Linked DNA regions of Homo sapiens: region 2 is linked to region 1. The links come from fine-mapping of genetic effects on gene expression. Tissue or cell type: whole blood. Region 1 holds a variant in brackets; the other region holds the start of a gene. All regions are shown on one strand. Distances are from middle to middle.

Region 1 (8,428 bases):
AGGTTAGCCCGCGGCATGATGAGAAACACACAGACTCTTCATCCCTGTTGCTCCAGCTGACACAGAACCAACTACCAGACATCTGAGTGAAGCCACTCTCGTCTATCGAGGCCAATTAAAGTGCCAGTTTTCTGCAGAAATAAACCGAGTTGGCCCAGACCAGAAAAACTGCCAGTTGACCCACAGAGTTGAGAAATAATGTTTCTTATTTTAAGACGCTAAGTATTGGGTGGTTTGTTTTGCCAGAAAAGCTAACAGAAATTATAAGAGAATTTTAGTAAAGTAGTTAGTTACTTTTTGTATAATTACTGTACAAAATGGCTCGTTAGAAAATATAATGAAAGAAAAGATCCCATTTAAATAGGAACACTATGATCAATTTATCTGAAAATAAACTTAACTAGAAATAGGCAGGACCATATAAAGAAAATATAAAATCTCTATTAAGGGGTATTATTTCTTGCTGTATTTAATCTATCAATTCAATGTGATCCCAATAAAAATATTTAAAAATTTCTTTTCAACATTTTACAAGATAATATTGGGGTCATCTGTAGAAATAAACAAGAAAGAATAGCCAAGAAGAAAATCTCAACAGAAAGATATTAGGGGAGGGGAGGCAGTTAGATTAAATATTTAAATACATTTTGAAGTTACAAGAATTAAAACATTTAAGCTGCGGGGGGGTGGCACGCACCTGTAGTCCTAGCTACCTGGGAGGCTGAGGTAGGAGGATGGCTTGAATCCAGCCTGAGCAACGTAGTAAGACTCCATCACTAAAATAAGTAAATAAGTGAAAAAAATAACCCAGTTTGATTCTAGCAGAGATTTAGATAGATAATGGAATAAAATAGGAAATCCAGAAATAAACTAAAATGAGAATTTAGTAGATGATAGTGGTGACATTTCTAATCCATGAGAGGAAAGATGAATTATTCAGAAAACAGTGTTGAGACTATGGCAGGACTATCTGGGAGAAAAAAAGAGTCAAGCTGTATAACTCCTCTTCTTTCATCAAAGTAAATTCCAGAAAGAGTATGATGTAAAATGTTAAAATGAGACTCTAAAAGTACTAGCAATAAAGAAGTCAGACACAAAAGGCCACATATTGTGATTCTATGTTTATGAAATGTCTTGGGAATCCATAGAGACAAAGTAGATTAGTGGTTGCCGGGGACTCGTGGGGACATGAAAATGGGAAGTGATCACTTAATGGGTGGAAGGTTTCTTTTGGGGGTGATGAAAAAAATGTAAAATTAGATAATGGCAAAGATTGCACAACTGTGAATATACTGAGATCACTGAATTGCATACTTTAAAAGGGTACATTTTATATGTGAATTATATTTTAATAACACTCTTATTAAAAAGAAAAAAAAAAAGGAAGCCAGAGGCGAAAGAGTCCATAGGGGGTTCTGACCCACACATGAGGTCAGGAAGGTTGTCTACAGAGGGAAAAGGAGGACAGGGTCTGAAAAGGGGTTTCATGGCAGCAGATGTTTTACAGGTGAGAAAGGGGGCAGGGAAATTAACTCTCTTGGCTCTGATTACCCTGTGACTCTGTGTCTTTCCAGAACTTAAGAACTTTGCATGCGCTGGACAATAATTTTGAATTTAATGAATGGTTTTTGAGTAAAATAAATGCTAGAAGAAAACATGGGCGAATTTATTTATAATACTGTTATGAAGACTTTGCAAACATGGCACAAAACCCAGAAATCATATAGAAAATGACTGATGTTTGCTTAGAAATGAACAGTTTTATATTTTAAAACCACATACATATGATTATAGTTTTATAGTTACGTTTTAAAAAAATTTTGTCTTTAGAGATACACGTTGAAAACACCTGTGGATGAAATGATGATGTCTGGGATCTGCTTCAAAATAATTTTTTATTAAGAGACAGGGTCTCACTCTGTCACCCAGGCTGGAGTACAGTGGTACAATCATAGCTCACTTAACCTCCAACTCTTGGGCTCAAGTGATTCTCCCTCCTCAGCCTCCCGAGTAGCTGAGACCACAGGTATACACCACCACACTCAGTTAATTTTTTTTAGAGATGAGGTCTCACTATATTGCCCAGGCTGGTCTCCAACTCCTGGCTTCAAGTGACCCACCCACCTCCGCCTCCCAAGTGCTGGGATTACAAGTGTGAGCCACCATGCCTGGCTCTCAAAATAATTTGAGGTGTGGTGGAGATTAAACTTGGTAATGGGTACACAGAGTACTCTTTTCTCTACTTTTTAAATATATTTGATTTATATATTTTGGATTTTTTCATAATAAAAAGTAAAAAATAGGCCAGGTGCAGTGGCTCACACCTGTAATCCCAGCAGTTTGGGAGGCTGAGGCAGGCGGATCATTTGAGGTCAGGAGTTCAACACCAGCCTGGCCAACATGGCAAAACCTATCTCTACTAAAAACACAAAAAAATGAGCCATGGGTGGTGGCGCACACCTGTAATCACAGCTGCTCAGGAGGCTGAGGCAGGAGAATTGCTTGAACCCAGGAGGTGGAGGTTGTAGTGAGCTGAGATCGCGCCACTGCATTCCAGCCTGGGTGACAGAGTGATACCCTGTCTCAAAAATATATATAAATAAAATAAAAAGTAAACAGCAAGAAGATCTGTGTACAAAGTAAAAAGATAAATAAGCTGGGAACAGGTATTTGCAACATAAGATATTAAAAGGGCTAATTTCTTAATTTATTAAGAACGCATACAAATTACTAAGAAAAAGAAAGCCCAAGAGAAAACAATGGGTAAAGATATCAACAGATGCAACAATAAAAAAAAAAGTCGCCAATAAATCTGTGAAACGGTGACCAGCCTTACTCATGCATGCAAAGGAAAACAATAACCAGATTCCTCTTCCATGGAGTAAACTGGCAGCATGAAGAGGCTGGATAGTAAGCAGGATTGGTGAGGGTGGGGGAAATGTGGCTGGACCTACTTGCTGTGGTGGGAATGAAGGTATCACCTTTTAGAAGGACAATTTCAGCATATCTGTCTGCAAATTTAAAATACATACCTCCATACAGTGAATATAATACTATTCAGCCTTAAAAGGAAGGAATTTCTGATACATGCTGTAACATGAATGAACCTTGAGGACGTTACGCTAAGTGAAATAAGCCAGTCACAAAAAGACAAATGATTCCGCTTTTACAAGGTAGCCAGAGTAGTCAAAATCATACAGATAGAAAATAGAATGGTGTTTGCTAGCGGGAGGGACACGGAGGGCAGTGGAGAGAATGGGGAGTTCATGTTGAATGGGTATAGAGTTTCAGTCCGAGATGAGGAAAAGAGTTCTGGAGATGGCTGGTGGTGAGGGTTG[C/A]ACAACAATATGAATGTACTTAAAACCACTCACCTGTACACTGAAAAAATGATTAAGATAGTAATTTTTAGGTGTCTTTTGCCACAGTTAAAAAAAAAATTAAGCCAGGCACAGTGGCTCACTCCTGTAATCCCCACAATTTGGGAGGCTGAGTTGGGCAGATCACTTGAGGTCAGGAGTTCGAGACCAGCCTGGCCAACATGGTGAAACCCCGTCTCCACTAAAAATACAAAAAAATTAGCCAGATGTGGTGGCGGGTGCCTGTAATCCCAGCTACTCAGGAGGCTGAGGCAGGAGAATTTCTTGAACCTGGGAGGCGGAGGTTGTAGTGAGCTGAGATCACACCACTGCACTCCAGCCTGGGTGACAGAGTGGGACTCTGTCTCAAAATCAGAAAAGAAAGAAAGAAATACATACATACCCCTTGACCAAGTGATTCCACTGCCAAACATTTACCTTAGGTTACACACAAAAAAATATGCCAAGTATGTTCATTTCTATAGCTGTAACAGCAAAATCTTCAAACAGCTTAAATGCCCAACAATGGTGAATTCACTAAATAATTATGTAATACCATATAGCACGCTACTCCGTAGAGATTTTGAAAAGGTGGTTTGAGCTCTGAGATATATGACTATGCAATCAAGGCAATAGCATGCCACAGAATGTGTACTGTACGACCCATGTGTACGCATTTCTAAAAGTGTGTGTTGTGTATGTATGTGATAAATTATGAGTCATTTCTATATAATTGTAAGATACTTTTCTGCAGTCATGAATACATTGTTAATAGTGAGAAGAGTACGGATGGTGGCAGTGATAGTAAGACTTTTTAAACCTTTTTGTAGTGCTTGGACTTTTTACTTTATTTGAATGTAATTATTTGTATTTATTTATTTAGAGACAGCCTTGATGTGTCACCCAAGCTGGAGTGCAGTGGTGCCATAGCTCACTGTAGCCTCCAACTCCTGGGCTCAAGAGATCCTCCCGCCTCAGCCTCCTGGGCAGCTGGGACTATAAGCATGCTTCACCACATCCGACATTTTTAATTTTTTAAGTTTAAAATAAAAATGTGATGTTTTGTATTCAGTCTGTGAGCTTCGTCGGTTTACAAGATGTGTTTCCATTTGGATGTTTTATCTAATCACTTTCTTTAAAAAAATTTACATTTCCTCATGCTGCTTTGTCTAAAATCGTAATGTTAAGTCTTATTTTTGTCTTTCTACACATTTCTTCAGTTTTTCCCTCTCTCCTTCCATTCTCTCTGGGTGCTCACTTTCCTGACTAACTTAACTGCCTGTGGCTATTATACACTGCATTGGGACGTCTTTGGAATGGCTGCCTTCCTGCTGGGGCGACTAAATTCCCTGGAGGTCGCCATCTTCAGACTTTTTATAGTACTCCTTGCATCTGGTACCTGCACAGCATGTGCTGAAAATTTTTTCTTGGTCATGATGGACCCTCTTCCCTTGAAAGCCTCAAAGCTGCAGTCTTGGATTCTTTGTTCCTGGCACCTCAACCTGCATCTTTTTATTACCCCTCAGGTTTTAGGAGTATCAAGTCCACCTCAAGTGGTAAGCCTAAATTTGTTTTTTTTCTGTTGTTGTTTGTTTCTTGTTTTTTGTTTTGTTTTGTTTTGTTTTTTGGGACAGGGTCTCACTGTCATCTAGGCTGGAACACAGTGGCATGATCATAGCTCACTGCAGCCTGGGCTCAAGGAATCCTCCCTCCTCAGTCTCCTGAGTAGCTGAGACTACGGGTTCACACCACCACGCCTGGCTTATTTATTTCTCATTTTCTCATAGAATGAGGTCTCACTATGTAGCCAGGGCTGGTCTTGAACTCCTGGGCTCAAGTGATCCTCCCACCTCAGTCTCCAAAGTGCTGGGATTACAGACATGAGCCACCACACCTGGCCCTAAGTTTCTTACTATGTGGGTGTCCTCTAACTTTTCACATGTGCTTTCCACATCTTTGATCTTTTAACTCCCTTCTCTGAGTGCACAAAATAGAGAAAAGAGCCCTGGAAGGTGGGGCCAGGAGACCAAAGTTTACCCTGGCTCTGCCACCAGTTTACTGAGTGGCTCTAGGCCCAGGTCCTCCTCTATGTCATGAACATGAGCGCTAGACCCCACCCCACACACTCCCACTGCCAGTGCTGGTGCTTGGCAAAGACCATCACATCCTCCTCTTTACCCATGATTCATATCTTCAGTTGTCCCCCCTCACCCGAATCTTTCCTTCAATCCATCAGCTTTTTAAGATATTAGTATAGTCTATTTTCCAGGCTTTGTTGTTTAGCTCTTGTTCCACTTTTCCTGCCTTATCCTCTTATATCCTTTTGATTCTTTCAATCAATATTCCAAAGCATAAAAATAAACCTAGTTTCTTTCTACTTCTTCTCCCTCTTCATTGAAATTACAACTCAAAACCACCACCCTCTTGCAGAGCTTTATGAATTAGTAGTTGTATCACCATCTTGAGAAGCAGAGACAAAGCTTGGTAGCGCAGAAAGGACACAAGCCTCAGAGTGACAAGGACCAGAATTGAATCCCCCTCATGATCGAGTCTCAGTTCCTTCATCTGCATAATGGAGACAGTAACAGTTCACACTTGCCCATCGCACAGTCCTGCCCCGCCCCACCTAGTCAGAGCCGACAACGCAGCTTGTCCCCAGGATCCATTCCTTCCATAGGTGACACTCCTGCCCCCAGGCCCTCTGGTCATCCTTCTCTGCCGCCCTAGGCTCCCACTATCTGCACCTCATGGCTGTCCCCACTCTGTTCTGGCCTTCTCAATGAATAAAAGCTCCCTGTGGAGAAACAACAGGGAGATGTCGGGGGAAGAGGCCAGCCAAGGAAATGGAGGGAGTTGAAGGGCAGTTTTTTAGCTCCATAAATTTCTGCGGGTGGGGGCTTCCTAGAAAGCTGGGCTTCATCTTCCATCTGCTATAGACTGAATGTTTGTGTCCCGCAAAATTCATAGGTTAAAATCCCAATCCTCAAGGTGATGGTATTAGGAGGCGGAACCTTTGGGAGGAAATTCATGAATGAGCAGAACCCTCATGAATGAGATTAGTGCTCGTATGAGAGAGACTCAGAAGAGCTTCCTTGCTCCTTCAGTCATGTGAGGACAGAGCAAGGTGATAACAACTATGAACCAGAAAGCAGGCCACATCAGACTCTGAATCTGCCAGTGCCTTGATCCTGGACTTCTCGGCCTCCAGATCTGTGAGAAATAAATTTCTGTTGTTTTTAAACCACTCAATCTATAGTATTCTTTTTTTTTTTTTTTTTTTGAGATGGGGTCTCACTGTGTTGCCCAGGCTAGCCTCAAACTCCTGGGCTTAAGAGATCCTCCCATCTCAGCCTTTCAAAGTGCTCAGGTTATAGGAATGAACCACTTTGCCCAGTCCCTGAGCCACCACACCTGGCCCCAGGTATCTTTGATGTTACCATTGTTAATGTTTAGGGCACCATAAACTGTGCCCATACAGAATAGCAAGCTTAATTAATAAATGTTATATACTGACTGCTCCACTGCTCAGACACAACAATATTGACATTAGGCCAATTAACAACCCTACGATGGCCTCTCAGTGTTCAAGTGAAAGGAAGAATCATGTGCATCTCTCATTTTTGAATCCGAAGCTAGAAATGATTAAGCTTAGTAAGCAAGGTGTGTCAAAAGCTGAGACAGGCCAAAAGCTAGGCTTCTTGTGCCAAACAGATAGCCAAGTTGTGAATGCAAAGGAAAAATTCTTGAAGGAAATTAAAAGTGCTACTCCAGTGAACACAAGTATGATAAGAAAGCGAAACAGCATTGATACGGAGAAAGTTTCAGTGAGCTGGATAGAAGATCAAACCAGCAACAACATTCCCTTCATCCAAAGCCTAGCCTAGAACAAGGCACTAAACTCTTTTCAATCCTGCGAAGGCTGGGAGACGTAAGGAAGCTGCAGAACAAAAGTCTGAGGCTAGCAGAGGTTGCTTCATGAGATTTAAGGCAAGAAGCCATCTCTATAACATAAAAGTGCAAGGTGAAGAGGCAAGTGCTGATGGAGAAGCTGCAGCAAGTTATCCAGAAGATCTAGCTAAGATCATAGATGAAGGTGGCTACACTGAACAATAGATTTTCGATGGAGATGAAACAGCCTTCTACTAGAAGAAGATGCCATCTAGGACTTTCGTAGCTAGAGAGAAGTCAATGCCTAGCTTCAAAGGACAGGCGACTCTCTTGTTAGGGACTAATGCAGCTGGTGACTTTAAGTTGAACATGGTGCTCATTTACCATTCTGGAAATCCTAGGACCCTTAAGTATTATGCTAAATCTACTCTGCCAGTGCTGTATAAATGGAGCAACAAAGCCTGGATGACAGCACATCTGTTTATAGCATGGTTTACTGAATAATTTAAGCCTGCTGTTGAGACTTACTACTCAAAAAATAAAAAAGATTCCTTTTTAATATATTACTGCTTCTTGACAATGCACCTAGTCACCCAAGAACTCTGATGGAGATGTACAAGGAGCTGAATGTTGTTTTCATGCCTGCTAACACAACATCCATTCTGTAGCCCATGGATCAAGGAGTGATTTTTGACTTTCAAGTCTTGTTATTTAAGAAATACATTTGTAAGGCTGTAGCTGCCATAGATAGTGATTCCTCTGATGGATCTGGGCAAAGTAAATTGAAAACCTTCTGGAAAGGATTCACCATTTTAGATGTTATTATAAATACTCATGATTCATGAGAGAAGGGCAAACTATCAACATCAACAGAGTTTGGAGGAAGCTGATTTTAACTCTCGTGGATGACTGTGGGGTCTGAGACTTCAATGGAGCAAGTCACTGCAGATGTGGTGAAAATAGCAAGAGAACTGGAATTAGAAGTGGTACCTGGAGATGTGACTGAATTGCTGCAATCTCATGATTAAACTTGAACAGATGAGAAATTGCTTTCTGTGGATGAGCAAAGAAAGTGATTTCTTGAGATGGAAGCTGCTTCTGGTGAAGGTGCTGTGAGCAGTGTTGAAATGACAAGAAACGATTGAGAATGTTCCATAAACTTAGTTGATAAAGCATCAACTAAG
Region 2 (6,957 bases), 56 kb after region 1:
GACGAGATCACGCCACTGCACTACAACTTGAGCTACAGAGTGAGACTCTGTCTCAAAAAATAAATAAATAAATAAATAAATAAATAAATAAAATAAAAATAAAACAATAAAACAATATATATATATTTTTTAAATTCCATAACTGGCATATGGAAGATACATAGTGTTAACTGAAGAATCCCAAGGTTTATAAATTTGGAGAGGGGAGCTTTACTTTTTATAAAGGGTTGCAGCCTGCAGGCTGGTGATCCTGACAGGCTGGGAAGTGTAGACTCTGGCAGAGACTGAAAGCAGGTATTTAGAGGGAGGAAAAAGTGGAACACAAATTTATGCCAAATGAGTTGGCTAAGAATACACACTTAAGTTACAGGAGCTTTGATTATTCACAAAGCGGGGGGCAGCACATGCATGCATAGTGAGCAAACATGCATGTTACATATGTCCTATGTTCTCTTTGGGGTGGAGATTTAACATTTAAATGCATTACAATTAGGTGAAGCAAAGGACATGAAGACACTCAGTGCACAGCCTCTGAAAACCAGCCAGAACCAGTCTGTGGTTGGTAGTCTCTTACTAGGATGTTACTGAAATCAGTCTCTTGTCCAATCAAAGAAATAGTTATGGTTTGTGGAACAGGGGTTGGGGGGATACAGTTAGTCAGCATCTAGTGGTCAGTGAGCTACAATTGATTCAATATTGCTTATCTCCAGGCCAGTGTCTATTTAGCTACCAGAGAAAAAGAAAAACCTTGTGGCAGTTAGAAGATGGTTTACTCTTCAAGTGTAGGGATGTGTGACTTAACCCTTGCCTGACACAGCCTTAGGTCTTGTTTATAATTTGGCATCTTATTGCCTCAAAGAGTCTGTTCCATCGGTCATATGATCACTATTGTAACAATAGTAAATGGCACTTTCTTTTCCCACTCCCTTTGACTATTTACCCATAGCATCTTCCACACCTAGTTCAAAATTCATCTAGGATACTTCAAATCAATCTTTCCACCTTAATCAGATAGCTCTGTTTTGTGTCACATTTAAAGTAAATTATTTACTTTAAGTACTGCTAAGAACACACTCTATGTAAACTATTATACTGGATGCCCAAGGAGATAAGTAGAAGATGGTTCTCTGGCTTTGAGGTGTTTGGTTGAGACAGCAATATACATTAAAAGTTGAACAGGAATGCAAAGCAGCATGGGACAAATTATACAGAAAGTGTGATAGTTTTGAGATTATAGTGGCTGATCTGTTCATTATTTTGTACTCAGGAACTAAAAAATTACTAAGAGTTGTAAGAGCTCTGGTTTTATAGCTGAGATAATAAGCCCAGTGACACAAGTGGTCTAGGATCCCAGCTATGAAGTGGCAAGAGGTTTCCTGTCTCCTGGTCCTATGCTGCTTGTGCGTGGGTTTCTAACTATTCACGAGTCTTTTAATCAGTTAATGTTTGCTCTCTCTAAGTAGACAGTTTAGTATAGCCAGGTAAGAACTGGGCTTTGAAACTAAAATGTTTGGGTTTGAATCCTGGCTTTGCTATTTACTGTGTGACTTTGGGCAAGTCACTAATCTCTTTGCTTTACTTACCCACCTATAAAATGAGTATAATAATGGTACTTTACTTCATAGGGTGGTTGTGAGCATTATATACTTAATATATGTAAAGCATGAAAAACTGTGGATTTGTCATTATAATTGCTATTAGTCTGTGAGGGAATGGAGGGCAAGGAATCTAGTCATGTTTTTTGTTTTTTAAACCTCTTCCCTCAGCTTCTGATCAGAGCATTCACGTGGGTGTTAAATAAATGCATGTTAGCTACCTTAAGCATATTGGGAGTTTTTGTATCACTGAAGTAAGACTTGAGATTTGTGTAAGCCTGGACTAGTCTGGTACCAGAGAAGTCTAGAAAGGTAAAAACTGAGATAGCATCAGATTGATTTTAGGACCTAGCACAGCTTGTTTAAAAAAGTCAGTCAAGACAAATAAGTGCTGAGAGAAATGGGGGTCAATGAGTCTAATTCCAAATGAGCTTTCTCATCTATTTTAAGATCTGCTTCAAACTTCCTCAGACAAAAATCTGGCCTTTTAAGGAAAGTGCAGAGAACATGCCTTCGTGGGCTTAGTTTGAGGGAATAGGGGCTGCATTTCACCCTGGAGGTGGCTACATGAATTCGTGAACTGAGGTGACAACACTGACTCTCTCCGGAAGAAAAGATGCTATCTCTTCACGGAGTTTAATTACAATGGCACTACTTGAAACAAGCTGCAGCAGCAGCAACAACAAACGCTACTGTTAACCCAGTCACAGCTCAGCTCAATATTCAGATTAGAGAAAGCAAGAACCATTTTTTTCCCTGGGACACCCTTCTCTACTCAAATACCCGCTGAAAAAAAAATTCTGAGACAAGCACTAGGGAGTGGGGAAAGCGGGCAGAGATGAACAATAACCCATATTCAGGGGTTAGAAAAATAATATTAATAAATCATGGTAGGTTTTTTTGTTTGTTTTTGGCAGCAACTTGCCACTCTTCAGCATCATCCATCAGGAAATCTAGGTCGGAAAAGTGTACCAACTGACCTTCCAAATTTTCTGCATTTGGCAGATGCAAATCACACAGTCCATCCCCGCCCTCAGCACTTGGACGGTATCAGGGAAACGTAAGTATCAATGGAAGAATCTTGAAGTGAAAAATAAATAACTGGTCAGGTTAGGGTTAGTGTTCTTGTGTGCAAGGGAGCTAGTGAAGTTTAGGCTTTGATGCGCACCCACAGCGTCAGCAAAGGAGGAGGAATTAAGGGACAGCATGGGCCGAAAAGCCCCCGAGTTTTGAGGTCAAGCCAACGGGCTGGGTCTCCGGTATCCTAGGATCTGCCCTGCACACAACCTTTGGCAGTTTCTCGGTTTGAATCTCGCCTGTACATTTCCAGACGAGACACTGTCTTACTGAGCGTTCTCACAGCGCCTAGCTCAGAGCTGACCGCAGAGCCGGCTCTCAATAACATCGAGACGCAAAAGCAGCTTTTGAGGTTAGGGGCGGAAGGGCATCGGTTTTACTTATTTCAAGGCTGGCGCTCGGTGCAGCCGGATCCAACTGCCAGCACAATGTTCCCGATCACTTCTCGCTTCCATTTCAGCCCAGGAGACGTCGGGAAACCCACAGGACCCGCTAGGGGCTAAGCGGTTAAGCCGCGTCCTTCAGGTGTCAGTCTCGATCCGTTCGGAAACCACAACCTCCAGAATCCCTTGTGCCAGGAGGCCAGGCCGCAAATAAGATGGCTCCAGAAGGGTGGAACATACAGCGGGGGGGGGGGGGGGGGAACTTAGTTGTTGGCAGTTTCTTCACGGGATGTGTTTAAATTGCCGAGTCCCCACATACGCGCCACCCCACAAATCTCCTTCGAGGCCGTGGAGGCCACACGGCTGCCGCCTCGCCCTCTCCTCCAGGAGTATGCTGGGATTTGTAGTCCAGCAGCCGGACTGTGCCGAGCTACCTTTCCCAGCTTGCCCTGCGGCTCGGGTGATATCAACAGTCTTTTCCAGAACTCTGTCTGCACTGAGACCCTCTTCCCCCAGTCCTCTTCTCGCGGTCGACTCCTTCCCATCCGTGGCGACAGAACGGCGGTTGCAGGAGAGGCCCCGGTCCCTCGCCGCGCCGCCCCGAGGGGCACTTCCGGCGGCGGTTCACTTCCTGGTTGGGTGGATGGAGCCGGGCGGGAGCGCGCGCGGGGGAGGGGCGGCGGGTCAGTCTCCGCCCGGCGCTCCCGGGATCAGCTGGCGGGCGGGCGGGAGCCGAGCGCGGCCCCGGCTCTCGCTGCAGCGCCGCCTCTTCTCTGCGTCGCAGGCCGGCCCGGCGGCCGTGACAATGTCGCGGGGCTGGTAGCAGGGCGCCGGCCGCCGAGCCGTCTCAAGTGGGTGCTGCCAGGATGCCGCCTCGAGGGGCGGCGGGGAGACCCGGGAGGAGCGGGAGGCAGTGCCCGGGAGGGTCGGCGCTGCCGGAGCAGCTCGGATCCCTCCTTTCTCCGAGCTCCCGGCTCGGGGGTCCCGGGTTCTGGGGCCGGGGTCGCGTTTTCAGCCCCACGGTTTTTCTCGCCGGGAAAATACATGAAGCGTTTCCCCAGGATGATGGCTTTTGCTCCCCCTAGGACTCAGCGGTTGAATTTTTAAGCGTGTTACTGATTCATCCTCTCTTTCTTCCTCTGTCATCACAGGTTTAAACTTACACGAATCGCTTTCTGGAGGAGGAGGGGACCCGCTGCGCGATTGACACGCATATTCCTATAGGCATCCTCCCTCAGCCCCCACCCCCACGGCCGGATTCGGGTGGCTCCTCTCCGAGGTGAAATCTGAGAAGAAATCCTTGGATCTCTTTTCTTAAAAAAAAAAAAAAAAAAAAAAAATCTAGAAACCATCGGTATTTTGCTTTGCTGCTCCCTATTCGCAAGATGAAGAAGTTTTTCGACTCCCGGCGAGAGCAGGGCGGCTCTGGCCTGGGCTCCGGCTCCAGCGGAGGAGGGGGCAGCACCTCGGGCCTGGGCAGTGGCTACATCGGAAGAGTCTTCGGCATCGGGCGACAGCAGGTCACAGTGGACGAGGTGTTGGCGGAAGGTACGGTGGGGCTCAATGCGCCGTAAATTAAAATCTTGTGCTGATGCGGCAATACTGTGGTTTCTAGTTGTTGCATGTATGAATGGGCTTTGACCAGTTGACCCTCCCTTCCCCCTTCACTTGCCCTGTGAGTCATTGTCCTTGAGAGATTTAAAATTGAGATTTGAAAGTGACTGGGCTTATGGGGGTGTGGGGAGGTTGCCGAAATTGTTTACGTTAGTGGCCTTTTATTTTTATTTTTTTAATATTGAGAAGCCAAATTTTGAGGATCACACAAGAAAACGTATGTGTGAAAGTGTAAAGCTTTATGCCAAAGGCAGGGTGATGGGCTTGTCATCCTCCTAAAACTTAAAATCTTGATGTGAAGGCTGAAGGGTGGGGGGACTTTTAAGAAGAGAGGGGTTTCTCCTTCTCCTACCCAACTTTCCCACTTCCATGAGCAGGCATTGGAAGGAAGAGAGGATTTTCGGAGAACGTGAACGTGTTTTTCCAAGGGCCAAGGCTCTTGGTGGATTTCACTAGTAGATTTGTTTCCTGACCCAACTGTAATCAGGTCCCCAGGTTATAGCAAAGATAACAGAAATTACATAAAACAAATGTGGTTATTTTGAACTCAGTCTAGTAGGCCCCTCTTCCTTCTCGCTTTAGGTTTTGTTTTTTGTTTTTTTAATCAAAAGAAAAATTACTTGAGAGTGGCTCTGATTTTGTTTTTTCGCTATCAGAGAGGATGTTATTTAGATCTGCTGCATAAATTCCCTCTGTGTTTCATCTGTGTGTCTATACTCACGTAGATATACATCTTGATTCCCCCAGGCTTTCGGGAAATCTTTGCATGTCTCTTTTGGTAACCTTAACCTCGACCTTCATAATTATGCCAGACTCATACTTTTCACAGCCCTTCGCCTGCCTAGTGTGCTTTTATTTTTAATAAAAGCAGCAATTTCCTTGGCATGAAGCAATTCAGACTGATTGGATGGGGCCAACCTGCTGTAGGTTGTGTTATAGACCGAGAGGGGTTGGAAGAAGGGAGAGGTCTCTCTTACTGCAACATGGTGATGGTAGGGAACAGTTTTATTAGCAAGGGAAGAGAGAAAGCTAAGAGGCCTCTTTAAAAAGGGGCCTTTTGCAAGCTAAAGTTGAAGCAAGGGTCCTGACCTGGGCCTGGGAAATGCTTACCATGGTGGATGTTGCGGGCTGGTGGGTGGGTTTGGAAGAGGAAGAAGCTGTGTTTGGCTCTCAGCTTGTGTAAGCACTGGATTCAGCAGGGCCCAGTTTTCTGGGAATAGAGTTGAAGTCTGTACTTTAAAAACATGATTTTTAAAAAAGATCTCTGACAGTTAATGTCCATGTGAAATTATTGCTCTTCCAATCTCAGTACTGTTCTAGCTGCGCTTTATCTGGGGCCAGAGTCACTGTCCCCTTGGATCTTTCCCGTGGACTTTGGTGCAGGCTAGGAGATGCTTCTGTGCCCGCTGCCAGATCCGCACCCTTGAGTCTGATCTGTCTCTTTCATCCCTGTGCCAAAGCCCTTAACTGCAGTGGGGTGGAGAAACAGTGAAAAGGAGAGTGTGTCAGAGAGAAATCAGGAGAAACGAAGGGCCACAGAACACTTTCCTCCCCTCTGAATGGCCTCTGCTGACCTTATAGCCCACGAGCGTTTTGTTCAGCTAGGATGTTGTCTCATCACGGATGATGCTGCCCTAAGCGGTGCATGTTCTCCAAGTGTGAGAGAAGTGATAGGGAAAAGAAAAGGCAAAATTGGTCTTTGTTACCTAGGCTGCCTTCCTCTTCTCTGGGATTCATCTTTGAGAACTGCGCATCACGTATTGTGATATTTTTACACAGAATTTAGGACTTGTAGCTCTGCATTTATTCATTCAACAGTTTATGGAGTTGCCTGTGAAGTGCCAGGTGCTGTGCTAGGCTCTGGGGGTATACTGTTAAACTAGATGCTAGCTTTTACCAACTGCTTTAAGAGATGGAAAATAGCCAGTTATAGTGGATTGGTAAATGCCATCATAGAGATAAACTTAGGGTGCAGTGGCCCCCAGTTTTAGGGAGCCCAGGATTTCTGAAGGAAGTGACTGAAGAGTGAGTAGGAGTTAGTGTGGTGGCACCATGGGCAAAGACAGAGTAGCGAGAGAGAATGTCACGTAAAACTGGGTCTGGCTATGCGCCCTTTTTGTGTTCTTTGGCTTAAGTTGAGTTTGAATTTGTGGCTCTTAGAAGTATGTAGATATGTAGGAGCCAGTATACAAAGTATTTATGTAGCACCTACCAAGTCCAAAGACCCTATGAAGTTCTGAGATGGATGAGGGAGGTCTATAGTGTGATTGACATCTGCCTTTAAGGAT

What was found. PIP is the estimated chance that this variant, and not a neighbour inherited with it, causes the effect.
Region 2: it holds the start of AAK1, and the variant in region 1 is fine-mapped to the expression of AAK1 in whole blood (TOPMed, PIP above 0.99).

The regions. Positions count from the first base shown.
Region 1 is chr2:69,696,187-69,704,614 of GRCh38, reverse strand. It overlaps a transcript of ANXA4 not described here. Among named protein-coding and RNA genes, the nearest start is that of ANXA4, 42 kb to the left of the region's middle. The variant C/A (reference allele first, on the strand shown) is at 3,339.
Region 2 is chr2:69,640,524-69,647,480 of GRCh38, reverse strand. It overlaps AAK1 (AP2 associated kinase 1), which reads left to right and starts at 3,742. Exons shown (of 22, transcript NM_014911.5): 1 at 3,742-3,906; 2 at 4,207-4,603. The coding sequence starts at 4,441. It also overlaps a transcript of ANXA4 not described here. RefSeq lists enhancers at 1,956-2,558, 3,314-3,583 and a silencer at 3,664-3,993.